Homo sapiens: one gene and its partner. The gene in region 1 interacts genetically with each later gene. Each region holds a gene or a part of one and is shown on either strand. Other genes may lie near its edges.

Evidence for each region.
Region 2: of NFIX (region 1) and SKI, changing one enhances a phenotype caused by changing the other (phenotypic enhancement), as found in Homo sapiens cells (one study listed by BioGRID).

What each region holds. Positions count from the first base shown.
Region 1 is NC_000019.10:13,074,213-13,083,346, reverse strand, and holds part of NFIX (nuclear factor 1 X-type), read right to left. Parts: intron 7,813-9,134; coding exon 7,676-7,812; intron 4,735-7,675; coding exon 4,612-4,734; intron 1,668-4,611; coding exon 1,492-1,667; intron 1-1,491.
Region 2 is NC_000001.11:2,230,489-2,239,622, reverse strand, and holds part of SKI (ski oncogene), read right to left. Parts: intron 8,180-9,134; exon of another isoform or gene 1-8,179. UniProt on the Homo sapiens protein: May play a role in terminal differentiation of skeletal muscle cells but not in the determination of cells to the myogenic lineage. Functions as a repressor of TGF-beta signaling.

The DNA of each region.
Region 1 (9,134 bases):
CCTCGGTAGTTAAGAAAGCAGGTAAGGTAATGTTCCAGGCCTCTCTGCGGCATATCCCAGACCCCAGGCCCCTTGGGGGCTGGGCATAGGCTGGTAGCTCCCCGTGAACTCTGCTGGCATCTCTGATGCAAGCACAGCAGCTGTCAGAGGTCAGGTCTGCTCTTCCCTCCATGGCCCTAAAAGTGGACAGAGCTTGTCCAGAGAGAGGTGGGCGAAGCTACCAGTATGCTAAGGAGCTGCAGAGTCAGCCAAGAGAAACCCTCGATGGGCAAAGGGAGAAGGGAGACGAGGAGGAAAGGAGCAGGAGGGGAACAGGAGGGAGGGAAGAGGACTGGCTTCCCTTAGGGACAGAGTGAGGAGGCGGAGCCACGGCCCCGCCGCAAATCAATACACCAGCACTTAGCAAATGCTCGCTCTGCCAGAGCACACCAAGGCAGCACGGGGCTGGTGGCAGCAGGCAGCCTCTGGTGTGGGCTTCCGGGATGCCTTTCCCCACCACAGCCCTTTGAGCATCCTCCCTGCCTGACCTCTCGCAGCAGGCTTCCAAGCTGGGAGGGCTGGCTACAGAGGAGCTAGAGCTTCTCCTATTACAGCATGCTGCTGAGGCTCTGGATTTTTCCCAGAGGTCTAGAAACCTCCACATTCCAACCAGGGACCGTTGTCCCACTGAAGGGTCATCTCTGGCCCACCACCTCCTGGGATCATTCTTTCGCTGAGCAACCCTGAGTTTCTGTCAGTGACAGAGAAGGGCTCTGGGGGGAGCCAGTGTGTCTCCCAGGGCTGAGGAGCAGCAGGGTTTCACTCTAGAACCAGGACCGTCCTGGGAACCCTTTGTTAAAAGTCCTGCCAGCAGGAGTCTCCGTGGCAGCTATGTGGATCGGGGCTTTCCCTTGACACAGTGCTCCTCACTAGGGATGGTCTTCCCCTCCTGGGCACACTGAAATCTGGAGACTTTTTTTTATTATCAAGACTGGGGAGGAGGAGGTGCTCCTGGCATCTAGCAGGTGGAGGCCAGGGATATTGCTCAACATCCTACAGAGCACTGGATGGTCTCACACAATAGTGAATAAACAGCCCCAAATGTCAACAGTGCTGATACTGGGGAAACCCTGGTCTAGAATCTAGCAAATCCTTGCAGCCCCGAGGTTTAAGAGGAGCGCTGGGAGGTCAGGGCCCAGATCCGGGTTGGATCATCATGAGTTCACTCCTGCTGAGGGGGCAAGGACCATGGGAAAGGCAAGGAGCCTGACTGAGCAAGGGGGCCCAGATGCTGCCCCCACCTCTCCGGACCATGATAGACAAGCCCTGGCATAATACACAGACCCCCGTCCCCAGACCCAGAAAATCGAGGCGTTTGGTACTACCAGCTCCCTGCTGCTCCAGCCCCAGGTGGGCTCCTGGCTTTTGGGCCCTCTCCCTGTGAGCCCTGAGACAGACAGATAGATGTGGAGATGAGGCTGTAGCCGGGCTCCTGGGGCCCTCTGGACTCACCTGTCCGGTGGCCTGGCCCGAGCCATCCGAGCACACAAACTGCACAAACTCCTTCAGTGAGTCCTGCCCGTGGTGGTGGTGGTAGCGGATGGTCGGGTGCGTGAAATACGGGCTCGACTGCTGGATGATGGACGTGGAGGGGAAGTGCAGGGCTGATGCTGTGGCCCGGGGGCTCCCTGCATGCACGTGGGCAGGGAAAAAAGGGCGTCAGGGCCAAGGAGGCAGCCAGTGGGAGGGACAGGAGAGGAGGGGAGCTGCCGGTCAGAGGGTCCTGAGGATCCTGAGCAGGTAAGGCAGCCGCCACAGGCACAAAAGTTAAGGCGGCACAAAAAAGTCAGTCATCAGGATCCATGATGTTTTAATGCAATACAAAAATAATAATAATAATAATAATCAAATAGGCAAACTAGGGTCCAAAGGCCAGCCATTTGTTTTTGTAAATAAAGTTTGATCACAACCAGCGCTGGGAGATTAGGATGAGGCAGATGAGGCAGGGTAGGATCTTGTCTTTATTTTATTTGGCTTTTTAAAAAAGTGTTATTATTATTATTTGAGACAGGGTCTCGCTCTGTCATCCAGACTGGAGTGCAGTGGCACAAACACGGATCACGGCAAGCAATCCTCCTGGGCTCATGCAATCCTCCCACCTCAGCCCCCCAAGTAACCAGCACTACAGGTGCACGCCACCAGGCCTGGTAGATTTTTGCTTTTTTTTTTTTCTAGAGATGAGATTTTGCCATATTGTCCTGGTTAATCTCAAACTCCTGGGCTCAAGTGATCTGCCTGCCTTGGCCTCCCAAAGTGCTGGGATTACAGGCATGAGCCACTGTGCCCAGCCTAAAGAATTTTTTTTTTTGAGACTGAGTCTCGCTCTCTCACCCAGGCTGGAGTGCAGTGGTGCGATCTCAGCTCACTGCAAGCTCTGCCTCCCGGGTTCACGCCATTCTCCTGCCTCAGCCTCCCGAGTAGCTGGGACTACAGGCGCCCACCACCACGCCCGGCTAATTTTTTGTATTTTTAGTAGAGACAGGGTTTCACCGTGTTAGCCAGAATGGTCTCGATCTCCTGACCTTGTGATCCGCCCACCTCAGCCTCCCAAAGTGCTGGGATTACAGGCGTGAGACACCGCGCCCAGCCAGTATCTGTTAAATAGAGACAGGATCTCGCCCTGTCATCCAGGCTGTAGTGCAGTGGCATGATCACAGCTCGCTGCAGCCTCGAACTCCTGGCCTCAAGCAGTCTTCCTGCCTTGGCCTCCCAAAGTACAGGGATTACAAGCATGAGCCACTGTGCCCAGCCTCAACATTTTAAACCATTTTAAACAAAGACATGGCTGAGTGCTGTGGCTCATACCTGTAATCCCAGTGCTTTGGGAGGCCAAGGTGGGAGGATCACTTGATCCAGGAGTTGGAGGTCAGCCTGGGAAACATAACAAGACCCCGTCTCTACAACAAACATTTAAAAATTAGCCAGGGTGGCACACAGGAGGGATCACTTGAGTCTGGGAGTTCAAGGCTTCAGTGAGCTATAATCGTGCCACTGCATTCAGCCTGAGTAATAGAGCAGGAAACTGTCTTTGAAAAAAGAAAAAGAAAAACAAACAAAAAAACTGGTGTTTGCTTACCATACCCTTTTTTTTGCAATAGTTTGGATTTTAAAACATATTCCATTAAAATATTATTTATCTTGATGACTGAGTTTTTGATACTTGCTGACACTCTGCACCTAAGGTGAGTGCCTCACTAGCCCTGCCTTAATTCAGGCCCTGGGTGGGAGACTGGGTGGGGGACAAGAGGAGGCAGAGGGTTCCCTGGGGCTCTGGATGAAGACAAAGCCAGCATCTGCTCAGGATGGCCGTCTGACATATGCACACACATCTCCTGAGTGCGAGCTGGTGTGCACCCAGCCACCGCCACCTAGGCGGTGTTCTCATGTGCTCAGCCTCATCACTCACACACGTGTCCTCACATACGCGTCCTTGCACACGCAATTCCCAACCCAGAGCAGGCCCCAGCTCTTCCTCCTCCCGTCTGTTTCCAATCAGCTCGCTCTTGCTCTCGGTTTCATTAGGGGGCTGAGGAAACTTGGCTTCTCTCTGGAGTTCATAAAAGCTGAGGTGGAGCCGGAGGAGCCAGGCCTGCGCCCTCCTGCTGCCTGTGTAGAGGGCCTGGGCTCCCCACCCCCACCTCGCGGCCACCACACCCTGCCCCAGCACCGGCTGCCTCTGGGCTCCCAGCCAGGAGGCCCCAAGGAGGAAGCCAGGAGGTAAACCTCCTCATTTTCTGTGTCCTACATACGAGCCCAGGAGATGGCAGGCGGACATAGGGCCATATCCAGAAAAAGTCCAGGCCTCTTGCTGCCAGGTGGGTGCCCAGAGAGGGAAGAAGAAAGTGAAGGAGTGACAGGGCTGAGGTCTCAGCTCCCACAGCCTCCTGCCTGATCCTATCTCCTCAGGGCGATCTAGGTGTTCTCATCCTGAGCACCTTCTCAACTGGGACACTGAAGTCAGAGAGCAGCCCCACGGCAGTGGGCAGTTCCTTTTCCTGGGGAGCAGCCCAGGTACCACCTGTCCCCTAGACCCAGCCCTTCCTTTCTAGAAAGCGGCAGGGAGGCCCAGACAAGGTAGCTACTTGCCGCAGGAGCCTGGGCTCCTTAGGAGTACTCTTCTCCATCCAGGCCCCACATCAACCTGGGCTCATGCTGGCAAAAATCCAGAGCCTGGGCTCAGCCAGGAGCTGGGAGAGAGGAGCCGGCAGGAAGGCAGAGCAGAAGGCTGTGCCTTCCCGCTCACAGCTGGCAGGACAAAAGGAGAACTGGGCCAGAGTTGGGGAGGACTCGGGACAGGCTTGTGTTGTATGTAGCACCCATGCACGTGAGGAGTGAGAAGTGGGAGGTTGCTCAGGAGCCAGGTGGGCAGCCCAGGGGCCCGGCCTGGTCCTCGATGAGGTGCTACGTGAAGCAGGGGCCGGCTCCCATGCCCACCCGCTGCTGCACCTTGGCCCACTTGGAGAGCGTGGGGCTGTCACTCGGGGTCAGCTCTGGCCCCTTCACCTGGCCAGCTGCCCCTAGATACTCAGCCACCTCCCCAACTGCCCCCCTCCGGGGCCCCCCATTTCTCACCTGGTCTGACTCCAGCAAGCACAGGCAGCGGGTGGTGGGTGAAAGCCATGCGCGGGGAGCTGCCCTGAGAGGAGAGGGCACTGCAGAAGTCCAGCTTTCCTGACTTCTTTAGAGAAGCCGGGCCTGGGGGGAGGAAGCAGCAACACAGGGCAGGTTTAGCTGGGCTGGGGTGGGTGCGGGGAAGGCGGGAAGCCAGCAGCTCGCTCCTTCTCTCCTCAGCCCCTCCCCACTGCCCCTTCCTCCACTGTGCTCCCTCCTGCTGCTCCTTGCCCAGTCCCAGGCCTTGTTCTAGGCCTGGTTCCGAGGCCCTGTGTGTAGGCCAGCCAAGGGGTGCTTCTAACCAGAGAGGAAAACGAGGCCCCTGGGTAATGTGGGGTGGTGTGTGCCAGGCAGGGGGTGAGCAAGGGCCCCAGCCTATGCCCTGGCAAGCAGGTAATGAAGTGAAAGGGTGGGATGCAGGACCAACATTGGGAAAGGAGTGCAGGAGGAACCCCAGGGCGCCAGCTTGAGAGCCGGGAAGGGGTAAGTTTGGGAGGGACAGGCTGGGGTCTATGCCATGGTGCCCGGGGCCATGGGAGGTTCTGGTGGGAAGAAGCCAGGGCCCCGTTTAGGGAAGGGAGCACACAGCCATGAGCCCTCAGGAGGGACACAATGCCCAGCGAGAGAGCAGGGACAGAGGCCAGAGGACCTGGAGAGTCCTTGGGCTGCTCAGGCCTAGCCGGGCTGTGCAGGCAGAGCCAGAGGGGAGAAGACTCCCCCAGCCAGGGGACCCAGAAGCTCAGCTGCCATAGGATGGATAATTTCAGGGCTCTGCCCTGCTTCTGGTGCCAGAGGTGTGGGTGGCATTCAGCATGAAACAAGGGCACAGAGAACACCTTGTTTGAAGTCTGTCTTTAGAAATTCATCTCTGCCCAGTGGCCATAGCATCCAAATGACAAAGCAGGGCCCCCAGGGGGCCAGGTTCTTCTGGAAAGATCAGCTCCCATCTTGGGCTGAGCTTTAAGGTTGTGCCCAGGCTGGGAAGGATAAGGTAGAGTTGGGGCAGATCTCACAGCTGCCACCCTTGGAGGACAAATCAAGTCAGTTTGGGTGAGGGGTGGAGGGGCTGCAGAACAGAGAAATAAAGAGCCATCTTAACTGCAGAGGGAAGGGGCGGGGGAAGGGCGAACTCCCAGCCGCCAGCGGAGGTGTTATCTGGCAGCAGCTGTGTGCCACCTGATAGCTGGCACAGTGGGGAGGGGGGAGCATCCTACCAGCTGTGCACAGCTGTCCCCATGGCCGCACAGTGCCTCCCCAGCTGTTCCCTGTCCTGCAGCTGGGCTGCTTAATTGGCAATTTGTTGCAGCCCATGAAAACAACACACAGCGGGGTGAGGGGAAAAGGGAGCCGGAGGGTGCTGCAGGAGGATGTTGAGGGGCCGTGCGTGGCAGGACTGCCGGAAGGAGCAGAAATGCAGAAATGGCAGGCGCAAAAGCAGACAGCCAAGAAAGGAGAGAGCAGGAGCCAGGAAGAGGGGGGCTCCTCAGGAATTAGGTCTGGGCACAGGAGCCCAGGAGCCCTTGCCCCAGGAGCCAGCTGCAGACACAGTCCTCTATGCACCCCAGGGGCAGTCCTTGCAGAAGGGGTCACCTACTGAGGCCCCGGCCAGGGACCCAGGATGTAGCCCAAGAGTCTCCCGGGCCTTCTCAACTCCTCTCTCTGCCTCTCAAGGCTCCCCTAGGGAAGCATGTGGCCCATGCTGGCCCAAGTCCCTGCCTGCCACGAGGAGAGCCTGGGAGGGGCCCCAGAGTCACGCAAGGAAGCCTTCTCACAGAGGCCAGCCTCTGCTGGCCATCTAGAGGGTCTCCAGCCCACTCCCTCAGCCTGAGGCCTGGAGGCGAGCCCTCCTTTCCTCCTCCCAGGAGGAGGAGAAGCTGCCAGAACTTGCATTCGTTCTGGGGCAGCAGAAAAGCAGGAGTGCTTCCCAGCCCCACCTCGCTCCACCCCAGACTCTGCCTGCCCACTTGGCCCTTCCCAGTAGGGGCATATCTGGAAAACATCAGACAAAGTACCATTAGGTCAGACCCTCACCTTTTGGAGGAGGAGAATGATGCCCAGGGCCCAGGCCTGTCCAGAGCAGCCATGCCCTGTGCACAACCCACACGCGTGAGTCTGCACTCCCAGGCCCTGTCACACCCACAGTGAGGATAAACACGGGCTGTACCACTGGCACGTCAGCGGGGGACTCTTGCGGCCAGCCTCCTCACACACATGTGCTCATGCACATGCACACACACACACGCACGTGTTACATGCTGTCTTCCAGAGTCCTCTCTAGGTCTGTCTGCACCCTCAGTCAAGAATGGAGGTGAAGGGGGGTGGGTTCAACAAGAAGAAGATCCCTAGAGGAGACTGGGAAGGTCTGAGCTGGCTTCCTCTGTACTCTCTCCCCTTCGCTAGCTTCCCTACCTGGTCTCAAAAGGACTCTGCTCATTCTTCACTAGACTCTGAGCCTCTCTCTGTGAAGCTGGGCCCTTGAGACCAGTGGTTCTCATCCTGGGAGGATTCCATCCCACTAGGGAACGTCTGACAATGTCTGGAGGCGTTTTTGGTCATCAAAACTGGGGGTGGGGGTTTTGCTGCTGGCATCTTGTAGGTGGAGGCCAGGGATGCTGCTAAACATCCTGCCATGCACAGAACAATCCCCTACACAGAATGATGAGCCCCCAGGGTGAGAAACTGCTTTCAACCATGAGGCCACGGGGTGGGGCAACCTCTAGAGAAATACCAGGAGGGGCTGCGGCCATCCCACTGTGGGGCACCAGAGGCTTGGCACCCCCTCTGCTTCCCACCGCCATACCACGGGCTCTGCTGCTGACTCTCACAGCACCCCTCCTCACCCTCACCTCCACTCCCTTCCTTCAGCCTGCTCTGCCCTCCCTGGAAGATCAGGAGGCAAGAAAACAGATGGGTAATGCCCCCCGACAGGGGGACAACTGGTGGGAGGCTCACCAGGTGAACTGAGAAGGGGACAAAAAGACTCTGGGCTGCCCTTGCTCTGGGTCAGGATCCCCCGCACCCATACCTGCATCCACATCGTTGGGCCACCCGCTGGACTGGCTGCTGCCAGCTGCTGGGGAACGGCCTGTCCCGGGATAGAACACGTCATCAACAGGGCTCTCCATCTCACTGTCATCGATGGACTTGGGGCGCTTGGTGGTGCTGGGGAAGAAAGAAAGGGTCACATGGGCCAAGGATGGGCTGAGGCTCCAGGGAGTGACCAAGAGTCCAGGCTAAAGAACTGTGCATAGATGGCCCTCTGGGTGGGGAGTGGTGCCGGCCGACAGCAGCATTTCTGGGCACTCACTGCGTGCCCAACCCCAAGATCAGCCCTAGGGCCCCTCAAGCCATCAGCTTCAACCTGCTCCTCTTCCTCAAGCCCCTTCCCAATCTGTGATGCCACGGTCCTCCAAGCTGCCCACATCAGAGAAGTCGGCAAAACCCTCAGCTGCCTCCTGTATCCCACCTATGATTTCCTGGCAGCCCCCAGGGCTAGGGTGAGGTGAATGACGTACTCACAGGGACAAAAATGTCAGAGGGACAAAAATGTCAGGGGGACAAAAATGCCATAAAACTCAGTCATCAATATAAAGAATATTTTAGTTCCTTTTTTTTTTTTTTTTTTTTTAGATGGAGTCTCGCTCTGTCACCCAGGCTGGAGTGCAGTGGCGTGATCTCAGCTCACTGCAAGCTCCGCCTCCTGGGTTCACACCTTTCTCCTGCCTCAGCCTCCCAAGTAGCTGGGACTACAGGTGCCCACCACCACGCCTGGCTAATTTTTTGTATTTTTTAGTAGAGATGGGGTTTCACCGTGTTAGCCAGGATGGTCTCAATCTCCTGACCTCGTGATCCGCCCATCTCGGCCTCCCAAAGTGCTGGGATTACAGGCGTGAGCCACCGAGCCTGGCCTAGTCCCATATTTTTAAAAAATCAAAATGAATGCCAAAAATCTCGCAATTAATATAAACACCCGTTTTAAAAAAAAAAAAAAAGTGGAGTGGACCCTGCCCAGCACAACTTGCCCTGGCCAGAACCCACATCCCTGCCTCCCAAGCAGCTCCCTCCCTCTCCATCCACCCCACCCTCCAGGCCCTCCCCCACTCTAGCCTTTCCAATGGCCTCCTAACTGGCTATCAGTCCCGCCCACACACACTGTTGCTGGAGAGAGCTTTCTGGAACACACACCCTCAGCATCCCCTGCTTAAAACCCCTCAGGGGTCCCCACTACCCAGGGATGAAGTCTAAATGCCTTCTTCTGGCCTCCAAAGCCCTCTGCAGGGTGCCCCGCCAGCCTGTGCAGGCTGAACTGGGATACAGGCTACCCTCTTCTCCTGGAACATTTTCCCCATACCCCCCAACAACCCCCTCTGTGTCTGGGCTCAAATGTCACCTCCCCAAGACAGAGACCTTCTTGGACTCCCACTTCCAGGCAAAGCGATGCCTTGTGCGAGTTTGTGTCCCCAGGGCTGGGTCCTTCATGACAG
Region 2 (9,134 bases), on another chromosome or scaffold:
CCCTTGCCACTGCACACCTTGCGGGTCCCCGGCACGCGGGCCATCCAGGTTGAAACCCTTCCTGACTCCATTCAGGTCCAGGGTGTGTCCCCGTACAAAGGTGCCGCCAACGGCTACACCCACATGGGATGAAGGTTCTCCCGTTCCCCCAACGGGAGCTCAAGACCACGCACGAGGCAGGTCCCCACCCCAGCCAGTGACAAGGAAGACATCGAGCCCGGCTTGACTCGAAGAGCCACACAGAGGCAACCCAGGGGGTTTACCTTGTTTTCACAGTTTAAAGAGCTTTATAAATTAAGACAAAACCCACTAGGGTCAGGCAAGCTGGGCGCCACTCACCGCATCCAAGAATGTTAACAAAAATCACAGTTTTGATAGTTCTGCAAAAAAAAACTTAGCAAATTTACAACAAAACTGTCAAGTAATTAAGGCAAGGCACTTCACACATGAACTTAAACTGCTAATTAAAATCCCCTCGCTTAATTGACTACATTTGCATATCATTCAACTTGGTAGTATAATTTTTTTAATGGTTTGGGCAACAGGGTTGTAGCCAGGAAAGGCGGAGGCAGCAGGTGAGGCAGAGCGAAGGCACTGCCAACGGCACAACCCGGAGCACCAGGCAGGTGGCCAGGGACCATGCCAGGCCGGGTCCCCACCCCCCTCCAGGTCCACACGGGCGTCCAGGGAAGCAGCAGCTGAGATCTCACAGACGCCACACCAGCTATGGAGGTCCTGGGTATCCCTAACCCAGAAGGCAGCCTGGGGCAGGCTTCAGTGCAAGCACACGGAATACCTCCCTCCCCAGTGTGGCCTGGCCCGCTGACAGCGGAGGTTCTGCACACAGCTCTCACTCGGTGAGTGCCAGCCCACAGGACACAGGCAGCGGCGCAGGTGGCCTCAGTGGACGTGTACACCTTCAGCACCACACACGCAGTGTCCACAGCTCCGCAGAGGGTGGCTCGGCTGCCCTGTCCAGTGTGCTCCTCTCCCGCCTGGACCAGGGGTCAGAGTCCAGACCCCACGCTCACCCTCACCAGGCAGGCAAGAGTCCCCTCACTCTGGGGCCCCGGGCTTGTGCCACCTCTGCAGAGGGAAGTCTCAAGGCTGGGAGTGCCCGGCCCCCATCCTCAGGCATCAGAGCCTGTCAGGGCCATGGAGGCAGAGCACCCTGTGCCCAGAGGCCCAACCGGTGCCATGGCAGGCCTGTCCTGGGTACCGTGTAGGTCCACGCAGGGCCGCCGACCTTCCAGGGAAGCGCAGGGAACAGCATGCCTAGGATGCAGAGGCCCAGCTTGGCCCAGTCATCTGGGAAACCATAAAAAAAGAGGGCCACGGGCAGCTGGAGCTGCCATCCACTGCCACGCAGAGGCTTCTCAGGCCACAGGATCCTGAAGGGAGGCACGGGGACAAACTGCTTCCTAAGGAAGGCTCGGGTTCTCTGAGCACGGACAATGAGGCCTAACTCCTCTCAGACAGACCTCCCAGGGCCAGCTGGTGAGGGAGGGAGCCAAGGATGCCCACCCTGGAGCTGCCTGGACCGTGGGCAGCCACACCAGGCGGGGACCTGGGGCTGCCACAGCCCAGCGCCTGGCACAGAGAAGCCCTTGACAGCACCAGGCGGGAGGGCACCGGGGAGAGACGCCCGCCACACGAGGGTGATCAGCCTCTCAAGGCCCGTTGGACTCCTTAAGTAACCCGTCCTGGATAGGGTCAAATGGGCCAACCTCAGACCTCCCACAGAGGGCGCCAGCCTCCCGGGGCCCTCAGGGATGAGGCGTTCACGCGTGTTCTGCAGGACGAGCTCAGCACCCGGCCAGACTGGCCTCCACGCTAAGGACAGACACGTTCCCTCAACAGGGCAAGAAGGACCCAGCCTATGGGCCTTATTTCCAAAAAAAGAAACCAAGAGCATTTCTGTTTCTGGGCAAAGATACATCTGCTCCATAGTAAAAGCAACAATGTTTCCATGTTACTTTCCCGGCAGAGAAAGCCTGCATCAGACTCTGCAACAACTGTGCCCCCAGTCAGCCTCCTCTCAACAGCTGGACCAGGGGTTCCCAGCAGGCAGCACCCCAACCAGGACAGGGTGAGGGCGGGTCTGCAGGCTGACAGCCGCTTCTTATTCTCATCACTTACAGGTTCACTCCTGGGCAGAACAACACAACGTAATTAGCGGACACCTGGCTCTCCTGGCAACATGGTTTCCCCTGTAGAAGAAGACTGACATCAAAGGAAACCACCGGCACAGCCGCAGCCTTCAGGAACCACAGCAGCCAGGAGCACCGCAGGGAGCACCTAAGCCACTCCAGATACACACAGGGCGTGGACAGAGAGACAGAGGCAGCGCCAGCACCGCTGGACACCTGCTGGGCGCTCCCTGCCCTCCCACCACCCCTCACCCACTCCTGACGCACTTCCCGGTGAGGTCAGCCAGTCCTCAGGTGCCCCCATAACGGCACACAAGCTGTCGTGGAGTCACCATCACCTCACACACGCAGCTCAGGGGTCAGGTCTGGTCGGGAAGGGCCACACAAGAACCCAGTTAGTGCCCTGGGTCCTGGGGTGGAACCCTCAGGACAGAGAAAGATCCCTGATTTGGGTGATGGCATCCCCTGCCACCCATGCCCACCTGAGGCCGCCAGCCTGAGCTGCGTTTCTCTGAAACAAGCAGCACCGTGGGACCTGCAGGAAGCCTAGAACAGGAGCTGTTTCTTTCTAAGTCAGCCGCCGACGTTCCAGCAGAAGCCGCAGTTGGTCCAGGCAGGGCTGAGAGCTGGGAGGAGCATCAGCACTCAGCCTCACCAGCCAAGGGTAATAATATTCCAGCAACTTCCCAGCCCTCAATATGGAACCAGGGTAGAAGCGCCCCCCAGGTCAGAAGACGGTGAACCAATTTCTTCCAAAGGTGGAACAATGGCCAGGCGCAATGGCTCATGCCTGTAATCCCAACACTTTGGGAGGCCGAGGTGGGCAGATCAAGAGGTCAGGAGATGGAGACCATCCTGGCCAACATGGTAAAACCCCGTCTCTACTAAAATACAAAAAATTAGCCAGGCGTGGTGGCACGCACCTGTAGTCCCAGCTGCTCAGGAGGCTGAGGCAGGGGAATTGCTTGAACCCGGGAGGCTGAGGTTGCAGTGAGCCGAGATCACGCCACTGCACTCCAGCCTGGGCAACAGAGCAAGACTCCATCTCAAAAAAAAAAATGGTGAAACAGTGAGAAAAGAAACAGCATTCTCCTTCTAGCCAAAGAATGGACCTGCCAATAAACCTTGACTGCCAGTGCCTGCAGAGTTCCACTGAGTCATTCAGTGAGTTATTGAATCTGGCCCCCAAACTGGGGACCCAGACGTGACCAGGCGTCCCTAACCCTAGCCCCTGAAGCCAGCAACACAACCACACAGGCAACAACCCCCACGGCCAGTGAGACAAGCACCCCAGCAGAGGCAGCCCAAGAAGGCCTGACCAAGGCCGCCAGGTGTGCCAGCCCAAGAGGCAGGCCTAAACGCCCCGATTCAGCATCTGCAGCTGCAGAGGCACCGAGGCAGAGCACTCCTTCCATCTTTATGAGTCAAAAAGGTAAAATCAGAGAAGACACGAACACCAAGCACCGAACAGAATCTCGGCCGTTTCCCAGGATCACGCCGAGACGCCTCTCAAAGCCCCCTTTATCTGTTTCCCCCCAAACAAAAGACAGGAGCATTACTCAAAGGAATAAGCACTTCAAGCGAAGGCCTACTAGGCGGCCGGCAGGACACATGCTGAGGGCCACAGGCGCCAGGCACCACCACGCCACCTCCGGGCCATGGCCAACGCAGGTGCTCAGTCCATCTGGTCCTAGTCTGGATTTTACTATTGTCCCCACAATCTCATTTAAAATTCACACTCAAGTCCTGGTTCTTCATTTTCGTAAATAAGCAGGCTCATGTGGCAGCATGTCCCCAGAGCTGGAGGCTCCCTGGGCCCCCCATCGAGGCCACCCCAGCAAGGCAGCCTGGAAAAATATCAAGTACCACACAGTGAAACCAACATGCAGGCTCTGGGAAGCGGGGCCCTTCTGGAACTCTCTCATATTCACAAAGCAGCAGCACCTAAGAGCTATCGCTTATCATGCCCCCCAGCCCCCGGGGTGAGCCAGAGCTTCCTGAGGGTCACCTGGCATGGCACCTGGTCTGCAGAGGGCAACCAGGCCTCGAGAGAACAGGTGGCACAGTGGGGGCGACCCCTCCAGCCCGCAGACCCCGGGGATGCCTTCCGTGGCAGAACCCACTCCAGGGGCCAGGCACAGTGGCTTATGCCTGTAATCCCAGCACTCTGGGAGGCCAAGGTGGGCAGATAACTTGAGGTCAGGAGTTCGAGACCAGGCTGGCCAACATGGTGAAACCCCATCTCTACTAAAAATACAAAAAAATTACTTGGGTGTGGTGGCACACATCTGTAATCCCAGCTACCAGGAGGCTGGGGCAGGAGAATCGCTTGAACCCAGGAGACGGAGGCTGCAGTGAGCCAAGATCGCACCACTGCACTCCAGCCTGGGCAACAGAAACAGACCCTGTCTCAAAAAAAAAAAAAAATAACAACAAAAAAAAACCCTGCTCCAGACCACGAGGGTGACAGCCAGGGCAGGGCAGGAAGGAGCCGCCCTACCACCCGCTCTGGAGGCCAGGTGTAAAGAGCTGGTCCCCAGGCAGCCCCCCCTCCATGACACCCTGGCCTGGTGACCACTGCTCAGGAGGGGAAGAGCCCTGAAGAATAAGGACAGGGGCCTTCTTTTCCAGCTCTCCCAGATATTAGGGAAATAATTCACCTTCTGTATTTTGACTCAAAACAAAGAAACTTTTTAAAAACATTTCAGTTGAAGCTTGCATAATTCTTCCAGTGGAGAAATCCTCCCTCAACTTTCGCAATCCTTAGAAAGAGACACATTATTGCCACAGAGAGCCGGGCCGCCGGCGTGGACACCTCCTGCCAGACAGTCAGGGCCCAGGCCCCGGAACCACCGCCTTCTCTCTGGAGGCCCTGCCAGCAGCAGTGAAGGCCTAACCTAAGCTGGGGCTGTGGCCCCACAACCCCGAGAGACTCCAGGGCGGGGTTCGGCTCACACTTACCCCAGACTTCCTCGCACCATATCCTGTCTGCCCTCACCCGGAGACTCAGACAGACAGACATTGCACAAATAGCCGCAGGGACGGCTGAGAAACAAGATGCTGAAAGAGAGGACTAGCCCCCCCACCGTGACCCTGCTGCCCCAGAAGGCGAGGGACCCAGCCCAGCTCCCAGAGGGGTCCCAGACAGACGGATGACAGACCATGCCGGGAAAATGACCACTAAGCTCTGCTCCCTGCAGAAGCCACCTGGGGGCAGCTGCCCATGCCCTCCCCAGTCCGTGCACAGCCAGCTGGGGTGGGCAGAGGTCAAGAACCACTCTCGAGCTGCTGTTTCCCCTGCTTGAGAAGACTCAGCAGCCGGCCGTCTTTCCGGAACCCTCACCTGGGGGGCAGACCAGCCCAAACCCGCAGACCCTGGCCTTCTGCACGGGGACCAGGGCCTGCCGGGAGCCTGACCCCAGAGCATGGCCCAAGACTACAGGGAACCCCACGAAAAGCTGGAGAAAAACACTTGCAGCAAACACTTTTTCCAAAGGAAGCTGGTGGACAAAGGGACAGATAGCCCCCGAAGTGCTCCCCGGACCTGAGGGTGTCTGGGAGAGCACAGCCCCAAACCCACACACGGCCGCTGAGCTGAGTGAGGGGTGTCCCAGAAAGAAACTCTTGATGCTGTCCCTTCCTGTGATCATTTCAGCTTAAAACAGCAAAGAGCAAAACACAACTCCTCCCCAGAGGCTCTCCAAGCCCAGCAACCCCTTCCTGGCCTCCACAAGCTCAGTCATTCCCCAGAACAGACCTCGAGACTCAAAGGTCTCAAGCCCGACCACCTGGCTGGGCACCTGCCTGAAGAAACGCTGCCTGGGGCCAGGGGCAGCCTTGCAGTGACACGGGTCAAAAGCCAGCATGAGGGATCAGAAAACCCCCGTCGCGGACCCTCCACTGGGAAGCGCGCAGAGCTTCCCAACCAAGCGACCCTCAACCCACAGCCCACTGAGACCCACGCCAGCCCACACAGCGCAAGGGCAAGGGGACCTGCAAGACCCCTGGGAATTCAGGCATCTGCAGGACAGAGCAACAACACTGTAACACAACCCAAATTCTCCAGTCACCAGAATGCCCAGACTGCACGTGGCAGGTGAAGAACAGCTCTCACACAGGCAGCCCACCGCCCCTAGGAACAGGACGCCCGGCCCCCTCGGAGCAGGACCCCCGGCCCAGAACAGGACCCTGGCCCCCTCAGAACAGGATCCCGGACCTCTGGGAACAGGACCCCCCCCACCAGCCCTGTTGGAACAGAAACCCCGGCCCCCTCGGAGCAGGACCCCCCCTTGGAGCAGGATCCTGCCACGGCCCAAGGGAAGCACGGCACCACCCTGTTATCAGCCTGCACGGAAAGCGCTTGGCTGACGTTCTGCGGGACAAGGGGCCGCGTCCCAGGCAGCAGGCCAAGCGGCAGCTCCAACTGCCACATTTTGTCTCCGTCTCTGACAGCTGTCTATACTGACAAAAAAATGTAGTCCAATGGAGTCCTACAGCTATCAGAGAACCCGAGGAAGGAGGCGAGCCGACCGGAAAGAAGAAAGAGGGGTGGGAGTGGGGAAGGCTCAGAGGCTCCAGTCTTGGCTAAGTGCTCCCAGCAGCACAATGACCCATCTGTGCCCCACCTGTACCACTCAAAACATAAAGTCCAAGATCAATAAACAGTAGTCCCCAGTTTACACTGAGGCAGAGAGGTTAAGCAACTCGTCCAAGGTCACAAAGCCAGTGTGGGACCGAGTGGGGAGGTGAGACAAGGTCCCCTGTCAAGGATAGCAGCCCCAGGGTCCCTAAGAGGAGACTCGCCAAGCACCCATGCAGCCCACATGGTCTTCCAAGATACAGCAGCAGGAAGCTGGCCGGGCCCGACAGCCACTGGACAGAAGCGGAGGCTTCCTCTGTAACCCCGTGACATGAGGGGGCATCTGGAGGAAGACTGTCTGCCCCTCATGCTGCCACTGCACTGCCGACAGGCCAGAGGCTCAGGCACAGCCGCTGTCACAGGAGGCTTCCAAGGAGAAAGCTGCAGCCCTGCCTCCCACTTGGTTTGGGACCCGGGAACATCTCCGCCCTCTCCCACCTCCCACCATGGGTAGGAGAGTGGCGCTGACCCAGCCCACTCAGGCAGGAGACCCGACCCTGGCCTGGCCACAAACACCCGGAAGGCAATTCAGCCCCCTCCGGCTCCGCAGAGCCCGAAGGCCTGCTGGGAGCAGCAGCCCTGCAAAGAGAGTTCCAGTACATTCTTTGTTCTGCCCTCATCTTCGGCAGATCAAAAATATTAAAATAAGCTACAAAGGAAGTGAAGAAATCAAAACATATCCCGAGAATAAGCTGTCAAGACACGAGTGGGAGGAGCCAACGGCGGCCAGTGAGGGCGGAGGCGGGGCCTCCCAGGCCACTCCTTCTAGGACAAGTAGGGTCTGGGCACTGTGGGTCCACGCCCACCCTGAGACCACACTCCCTTCTCATGTGTCGCTCCTGTGCACACAGAGACACGCACACGGCTGTCCTGAGGAGACTTAAGGGGACCCTGAAGCCCAGAACTCCCAAGTGCACAGTCACAGAGCCTAAAGGGCAGGCACTGAGCGAGGGCAGAGTCCCTGGCCGCCATCCCACGTCAAGAACATAGAGCAGGAGGCAACACGGGCAGGATGGGTGCCCCACCCCCAGGAGCATGAGGAGAGGAAAACCCGCAGGAGCTGGTGAACATTCAGGGAGCCAGGCGGAGGACACCACTGCCAGGGCCAGGCTGTGTGGCTGCCACTCAGGCCTAGAGGACGCAGTCACTCACACCGTGCACGTCGTCAGTATGGCCTGGGAATTGCTTTTTAATCGGTAAATGAAATTTCAGAGCAGTGCTGGGGACTTCAAAAGGGAAAGGCGGCTCGGAGGCATCCGCTGAGATGACCAGAGCCTGTCTGGCCTGTCTCTATGGCGGCCCAAGGACCCCGGCGCTCACAACCACAGGGAGAGAGAAGCCGGGTGGCCTGGGCCCTGCTCTGTGTCAGCTGTGACAACGAGGCCCCACTGGCCACTCCAATGGGCCCCCAGCAAAGCCCAGGAAGACAGAAAGACCACAAGCACACACATGACCCACAGTCGGACAAAAACAAACGCAGACACACCCTGCTCAACCGAGATCCTCTGCCATCAGCTCTGAAGACAGTGACGTGAGCGTGTCCCAGCAGCTCAGGCCTTGGCCACAGGTGACCCACTACGCAGCCTGCACGAGCCCACAATCCCCCCCGACATGTGGCTTCCTCCAGCCACAGGCACTGACGAGGGTGCGGCCACCCCAAAAAGAAAGGCCCCAGCCCACAGGGAGCGCCATCGGGCCCACCCCAACCAACTCCCCGTGTGACACGAAGGGCCCCAGCCTGCTACGTCTGTCTGCAGCTCTGCCACGAGCATCCTTCCCCAGCCCACAGGTCTGCAGGCGGCTGCCACCTGAGCCCTGGCCTGGCAGGGTCAGAAGCGCGCACACACAAACACACACATGCACACACACATGCACCCTCCGCAGCCCCCTCCGAGCAGAGGCGACAGTCCCTCGCTTCCATCCACAGCCCCTCCTCCCCACGATCTGACACTCTGCTGGAGGGGCGCCCAGAGAAAACCGGGCTGGAGCATCTATTCACAGATTTAGAAAAAAAAAGTTTGATGCAATAGCTGAATTAATTAGGCCTCCCAAGAATAGCTGAGCCAATGCAGCATTCTGTGTGTGCAATTTAATAAGCCTGGATATTTAAAAGAAAAGTTACAAATACTTGGGGAGGTACGCAACGGAAAGTTCCTGAGGACCCCACTGAGTAATTTCGGCACCTCGTGGCCTGGGAGCTGCCCATGCCGGATCCCATAGATCCTCCAACTGGCAAACAACAAAGCCAGGCCAGCAGCCTCCCTCTCCGGCGCACCCCTCTGCGTTTCAGAGGGAGAGAAGGAAATGGGTGAGTCCAAAGCAAATCGCAGGCCGCCAGTAACTCC